2 linked regions of the Homo sapiens genome follow. The protein of the gene in region 2 purifies or fractionates together with the protein of the main gene of each other region. This does not show direct contact. Each region holds a gene or a part of one and is shown on either strand. Other genes may lie near its edges. The genes, in order: HECW2 and ILDR1.

Region 1 (3,823 bases), on a different chromosome or scaffold from region 2:
CTAACATGGTGATAATTTTCAGAAAATGTATTCTTTGCTTAAAATTATTTAATAAAACCTTAACTCTGGGTTACCACCAGGTCCCTTGCAAAGTGTTGGTTTAACACTCAAATTTCAATGGCTTTGGTCCCAGTTACTAATCAATAATTTGTACTGATCTGCAGAAGTGTCACTTTTTTAGCTTCCCATTTTGTGAAGTGTCAGATAGTGCAGTTTTTAATTAATCTTACTACAGTCTTCTTTTCACTTGAAATTCATGCTTGAATTTAGAACTTCTCCAATAATGTTGTATTTTGGGAACTGTGTCTTATTCCATTCAAGTGTTCTGACTATGAATTACAACTGATAAGGAGCGTAGTGAACAGTGGAAAAACTGTGCTGATTGGGAAGCTCAAAGGGTGTGCTTTTCTAAGTTTTAGAAACAAAATGGAATAGGTGGAGTTTGACCAGCTGGATGTTAGCTCCTTGGTGCTTCACTGACAACACGATAAAGTAATTAATTAGTGTTCTTACGGTCACATTTCCTCACCAACAATTAAGAGTTATGACATCCTTTGACGGTGTGTAAACAGTCCTTCTCCCATCTGACAGATGAGGTAATTAGGAAAAGAAGAGAATGTACCTTGCCCAAGGTCTCAAGGGAGCCTGCATCAGACCTATGATTAGAGTCCAAGTGCTGTTGCCTGTCCTATATTCAGTTGGCAAGCTGAACCATGCCTTCCTTTAATTTGAAATTTAAAATCTAGCCATCTATAAATCAAATTTCACCTCCTCTATATTCTGTGTTGTTTCTCCAATCACTTAGGTCTATTTCAGCTGTGCCTGCGATGACCAATTCCAGTTCTCTTGCATCAAAAACAGATACCAGCCTGGCATCCACCACCTGTGGAATAAAAAGAGTACAAGGCATGGCTTAGGAGCCTGGAGAAATATCAGCTATAATTAAGCCTTAGAAAAGGGGACACATGGAGTTTCAGGAATAATATGTGTGTACCTTGTGTTGGCACTTGAAAACCTGTAAAGCTCCCTACAAATATAAGGCATTCTTTAGTATAAGGTTGATGAGATTTGCCTTGACAGAATTTTTGTTTTATAATTGATTGCTGATTAATCTAGGTCCCGTCCACCTTTAGGAAACTATCTAGTGTTTCTACAGAAAAAGTCACATACAATACATGCCAACTCATTCTGATCTCAGATATAATTATTTCACATAGCAAGCATGAGATTTGATTACCCATATCTAAGCATAAGATGCATGGCTTAAATGTTACTAGTGGTCATTAAATCAACAAATGCTACTTGAATGCAGTCCATAACATTTATTTCAGTGATCTCTCGTAACAGTGAGTTAAGCTTCTTTTGGTGCTCTTGAAACATAAGGGAAAAAATACTGAACTTTTCGCATGGAAAGAGCAACAGTAAATACAGCAGAAATAGTCTACACATGTAAAGTACAATAAGATGGACTGTGGCATCATTGATATCAGACTGCAAACTCCTCCTACTGCTGATTGTCTTTACCTCATAGAAGCCACGCACTAAGCTCTCTGTTTGCTGTACAACACCCCTCTCAATCCTCCACTTCACCATCCTCTCGATGTACTCCTTCTTGTTCTTCTCTGTAACTGGGATATTGGCACCCCCTGGCTTTAATTCTCGTTCAGTTATCTGAGATTACAAAATAAAAAGAATGACTACAAAGCAATACTCTTAATGTTATAACAACATTACTAGCATTGAGCTGAAATCAGCCAGCTACCTGTCCCAGCCCTGCCCTAGGCACATCCCACAAGCTGGCAGTGAGGCCCCAGGCACTCACGGAGCACACACACTCAGGAAAAAATAGGCATTGAGGGGGTGCTTGAAAGCTTTGGTGATTAAAGTATATATATGTATTGCTGTTACTACAGGTTAAGTTTTAAAATGCCGATGAATCGGCTTCAGATACTAGCCTGCTACTATTTGAATGTTTGACAAAACCCATTTTCACAAATTTCTCAGAATTGACTATATCTAGCGTAAAGATTTACTTTAAAGCAGAATTACACTCAAGTGAATGTTAAATTGAGAACTTTTTCAAAACACATGGAATGCAGAAAAGCAGCTAAAGATTAATGCCTAAATAAGAATATTAATTATAAACTGGTATATAATTTCTGGAAGAAACGTTTTCCCTACTCTTCCACCAATTTTGAAAAAAAAATTAATATATTCTGTTCTTAAGTCTTCCCCAAAACATTGTTTATGTTCCCTTAGCTTCAAAAAAATCAATTTTGGTTCTCTTTATTTTTCTTTTCTTTTTTGAGACAGGGTCTCACTCTCGTCCCCCAGGCTAGAGTGCAGTGGCATGATCCAGGCTCACTGCAGCCTCAACCTCTCCAGCTCAGGTGACCCTCCCACCTTGGCCTCCTGAGTAGCTGGGACTACAGGTATGTGCCACCACACCTGGCTAATTTTTGTATTTTTTGTAGAGATAGGGTTTCACCATGTTGCCTAGGCTGGTCCTGAACTTCTAGGCTCAACTGATCCTCCTGCCTTGGCCTCCCAAAGTGCTGGGATTACAGGCATGAGCCACCGTGCCCAGCCACCATTCTATAAATGCCAATTAAAAAATTCTGTAGTGTGGACTTTAAAAAACTGCATTCTATATAAGGTAAATTCTCATATTTTGGGGGATATTTTAGTTGGAAATAAAAAGAAGATTGCTTACAACATAAACAGTTATCACCATCTGTAATTTACAGCATCTTAATCTGCAGCTGACATTAATTCTAATCTTTATAACTGCGGTTATTATAACTGTGTGTGATCCTGAGTTTAAATCACCCAATAAACCACGAATAAATAAGCATCTGATCTTAGCCATGGAGTTAATTCTTCACTCATCAATAGCCTTCAGTTACCACACTTAGGCGCCAGGTGTGCAGATACACACACCTGCCCAAATACTTCTTCGTTCACAGTGAACGTGAGGTCTAGGATGTCATGGATATCATTGTCTTTCATCCACTGCAGGCTCTGATGGAACTCTTCATCAAGGTATTCTAGGTCACTCAGGTCACATAGACTAAGATGACAAACAGACAGAAACAAATATGTAGGCATGGCTATTAGCAAAAACCCAGAGTCATAAGGAAAGAAACTAAGAATTAAAGAGAAGAATAAGAGCCACTACATAGGCAGTGATTTCTGGAATGTTCTTAGTCCAAGTCCAGTAATTAAACCAAACCAGTGAAATAATTCAGAAATTTGTTATAAAATTAGAAAGTCCTAAATATATAATATGCCACAGGAATCATTCAGCCTGCGTCTTCCTTTATAGACACAGAACTGGAGGTGCAAAGAATGAGTGCCATCTGCGCAGTCATCCATCATCAATGCCAGATCAGGAACTGGCACTCGGGTTGACAACTTGGATCCATTATTCTTTCTGGCCATATTATACTACCTTAAAATACTGTTATCTTAATTTGAAATTATTTATATATTTCTATATTTTAACTTTTTTTAATTGAAAGACATGATTTTTATTTTAATATTTATTTTATTTTATTTTTTATTAAAGACATGATTCATCTTCACATACATTCCCTTTTTCTTCATGGTTCTTATTCTGAAAATAGTAAGCCACAGAACCTGCCGTCAATCTGTATTTTTCCCCCACTTTTTTTAATTGTAGAGAAAGAATCGACATGAGGTAAGTTACTGTTCCATGGCCCAGTTGTACAGTGGTAGTCATTGATTTGCTATAGCTGTTTTGAAATTTCACTCCCCTTAACCCAATTTTAAGGGTCATTTTTTTTCAGTTCAATCTGAACAT
Region 2 (3,823 bases):
TAGCTGGGATCACAGGCGCCTACCATCACACCTGGCTAATTTTTGTATTTTAGTAGATGCAGGGTTTCACCATGTTGGCCAGGCTAGGCTCAAACTCCTGACCTGAAATGATCCACCCGCCTCAGCCTCCCAAAGTGCTGGGATTACAGGTGTGAGCCACTGCGCCCGGCCTGAGCCACTGCACCTGGCCTTCTTTTTTTCTTTCTTTCTTTCTTTTTTTCTTTTTTTTTGAGATACAGTCTTGCTCTGTTGCCCAGGCTAGAGTGCAGTGGCGCAATCATGGCTCACTGCAACGTTGACCTCCTGGGTTCAAGTGATCCTCCCATCTCAGCCTCCCAAGTAGCTGAGACTACAGGCATGCACCACCATGCCTGACTTTTTAAATTTTTAGTAGAGATGAAGTCTTGCTATGTTGCCCAGGCTGGTCTTGAACTCCTAACCTCAAGCAATCCTCCAGCCTCAGCCTCCCAAAGTGCTGGGGTTATAGGCGTGAGCCACTGCACACAGCAATTGATATAAATTTCTAACTAATTTCCAGGAGATGCTGATGCTACTGCTCTAAGGACCATACTCTGAGAACCACTGGTGTAGACTCAATTTAAAACACACACACACACACACACACACACACACACACACACACAGGCTTTAGATTCAGATACAGCTGGGTTCAAATTAAACTTTAATATTTACTTGAATTTTGGACAAGTTATTTACTCTCTCTCTGAGCTAGTTTCTCAGCCATGAATGAAGATGATGATAGTGCTAGCCTTATCAGGTCCTTGCAAGAATGCAATGAGATAATCTACTGTCCTTGGCATGAAGCCTTGCACATACACTGCCACATTAGTGTCAGTATGTGAGTCTCTTCCTTTTTTTCCCCTTATTACGAGGGCCAAGGAGAAAGAGGTTGGAGTTGGGGTTTTCTCCAACAGAGTTTTCAAACGGAGCCACCTTCATTTTGACCAAGGTACTCCCACAAACAAAACAAATGTAGTTATTATCCTACGGAGCAGCTAGGTGGGCCTGTCTTGAACGCTAGAGCACATGATTCTTGGGTCCTGCCTGACCTACTGGTCACAGCCCTTGTAAGACTGTCCCCTTAAACTTCTGATAGGCACCTGCATCTGGGTTTCTCACATCCATAGACAGACAGCAGAATGCTGCTCAGGACAGGCACTCACAGAAATGACCTGACCACCTATCTCCAGGACTGGGCTGTGATGCAGATGCCCCATGGCAGATGTGCTGGATAGAGACTCTGCGGCAGTGCAGGCGAGAGCTGTGGGCAGGAAGACTTCATGAAAGGAAATGATTTAACCTAGGCTCCAAGAAGCAGGTAGAACTAAGATCACGCATGAGAAGTAGGAAGAAGGCAGAGAAACTCATTGTTTCAGTAAGCAAGAAAGGAGGGAGCAAAGAGCCTTATTAGGAAGGGGCAGTTACTTGGGTAACCTGGGGGAAACCAATCTAGCTGTGTCTCCAGCTTTATGGAAAACAGAGAAGATAAATAAGGCGGGGCTGGTGGTGGTGAGTGGGAGGTGGGGCGATGGGGTGAAGTCTAAATCACAATCCAGTTCAATTTCTTGTCCATGGATCATCACTGAAGTCTTTTCTGAAGAACAGTAATACAGTGAAAGTGGTGTTTTTAGGAAGATAGATGACTTCCCCACTCAGCTGTAAATGAAAAAAAAATATATATCATTTTAAAAATAAACCTTGAGTGGTTTTGGGAAAAAAAGCTGCTGTCTCCGTAAGCTGTAGAGTCCCAGAAATCAGGCCAATTAGAATGGAAGGGCCGGTGACCAGCATCTCAAGCCTAACATGGCTTTCTTAATCTAATTTTTGGTTCTTGTTCTTTCTCTGTGACTACCCCTTTGTGTGTTTTTTGTTTTTTGTTTGTTTGTTTCTTTTCTTCCAGAACTGACCTGAAATAGACCTTGGAGATCTCACCAACCACAGTTTTATCTGAATAGTAGAAGCAGCCACAGATAAGATTTTCACAATGAATAGGTTGCCATTGTCAACACTGGCTTATTTTGTTCCATAACACACATACCGATGAGAAGAGAGAGGAAAACACTGATATTGGTCTAAATAAAATCTTAGGTTCAACAGCATCTTCAAATATATTCTTTTATATACTAAATGTGATACCTGGGAGAAGATTAGCTGTGCTCACTTCCTGTACAACAAATCTGAGGCTTGGAAATTTAAGGGACTTGTCTGTGGTCATTCGTTTTTTCTAAGGGGGTCAGAGTCGAGATTCTGTCCCTGAGCAGTGCTCCTGCCTCTCAGCTTGGCTATTCTTTAAATAAAAGATAATTGGTATTCACAAGTTTGCAAATAATTTGAGCTGGGGGCCAGGCTATGTGAGCAATAATTAAAATATAACTGGTGCAGTCACTCTGACACAGTAAAATAAAGAACATGTAGGCTCCTTATTTGGCTGAATGTAATTTGATATAAATAGCAGTTTAATCAACACTCTAGTCAATATCACCTGTATAGAGGTAGCGCATTTGGGAGCAGGGAGACCAGGTTTGCTGGGGGTCAGAAAAAGGAATTTGGTTAGAGTCAGAAATTGCTGTGGGGTAGCTTTGAAGATTGCAGAATCTGACACCCTTGAGGAGGGGAAATGGGGAGAAAGGTGATCACTCAGCTCCCCTTCCATGAATGCCCTTATTGTGGACAAACCACATTTGGGGTGACAAAACTCACCTTTACCAACGTCAGCACTGACTTTGCTGCTTGGGTACTCTTTTATCTTCTCTTCTATTTCATCCCTGTGTGAATATCAAGCCTTGATATCTGCCAGGTTCAACAAGTTCTGGCCATCTTGAGCTCATTCACACTCTCTCCAGGGGTCTGCCAGCCAGCCCCACAGCATCCTGTGCAGACCTCAAACGTCCACCCCCTGCCCTGTCTCTCTTTCTCTCTCTCTCTCTCTCTCTTTCACACACACACACACACACGGGAAGAGTCCCAGGAGAAGAGGTACTGAACAACCCAGCAAACTCTTCTCCCATATCTCAGTTGTTGCTGTGGGTCCTTAGCATCTATTATGCACCGGGTGATGTACATTCTTGGTCTCTAAATCTCACAAACCCCCTCAGCTAGGCAACAGCCCTGCTCATATAGGTGGGCAGAAGTTCAGCTCAGAGTATAAGCCACACCCCCACGTGTCCAACATCACATACCTAAAAAGTGTCAGCATCAGGATTTGAGCTTGGGCCTTGCTGACAACAAATCCCAATTTTTCCCAAGCAAGCAAGCTTGATCTTCCAAAGTAGAAGTCAGGCGCCAGGCTCTTAAAAAGCAGTCAGATTTTCCAGATTGGGAAGGAAAGGCAGTAGCAAGACAGTCCATCTCAAAGGCAAAAATCACCCACTTTCTTTTCCTATATCCTCTAACTTCTCTGTAAACCTAACCACACTGGGCATGCACAGAACTAAGCAGGTGGAGTTTTCAAGAAAGGACCCAAAGCAGCAAATCAGGCTGAAAATGTGAACAGGATCAAAAAAGAGAAACGTCCTGATTGTAGTCATCCTGGTTGCAACTTTGCTCTTTCAGGCTTACTACAAGTTTTCAAATTCTTAATTTTTTTTCTATTCTTAAAATTCCTTTATCCTGTGGAATTTTCTCCTCCCCAGTTCATTGACTCCTCATTTCCTAGCTGTCTCTATCATTTTCTCTCAAAAATGTTAATTCTAGAACCTGACTCCCTGAGTTCAGATTCTGTCTCCAATCCCTAACAGCTGAATGGTAATGTAATATAAACAGCAGTTTATTAAACACTCTAGTCAACATTAGTTGCTGGGGG

Evidence for each region.
Region 1: the proteins of ILDR1 (region 2) and HECW2 purify together in Homo sapiens (affinity purification with mass spectrometry; one large-scale study listed by BioGRID and IntAct). This does not show direct contact.

The regions. Positions count from the first base shown.
Region 1 is NC_000002.12:196,219,271-196,223,093, forward strand, and holds part of HECW2 (E3 ubiquitin-protein ligase HECW2), read right to left. Parts: intron 3,071-3,823; coding exon 2,941-3,070; intron 1,672-2,940; coding exon 1,525-1,671; intron 884-1,524; coding exon 769-883; intron 1-768. UniProt on the Homo sapiens protein: E3 ubiquitin-protein ligase that mediates ubiquitination of TP73. Acts to stabilize TP73 and enhance activation of transcription by TP73. Involved in the regulation of mitotic metaphase/anaphase transition.
Region 2 is NC_000003.12:122,008,722-122,012,544, forward strand, and holds part of ILDR1 (immunoglobulin-like domain-containing receptor 1 isoform 1 precursor), read right to left. Parts: intron 1-3,823. UniProt on the Homo sapiens protein: Maintains epithelial barrier function by recruiting MARVELD2/tricellulin to tricellular tight junctions (tTJs).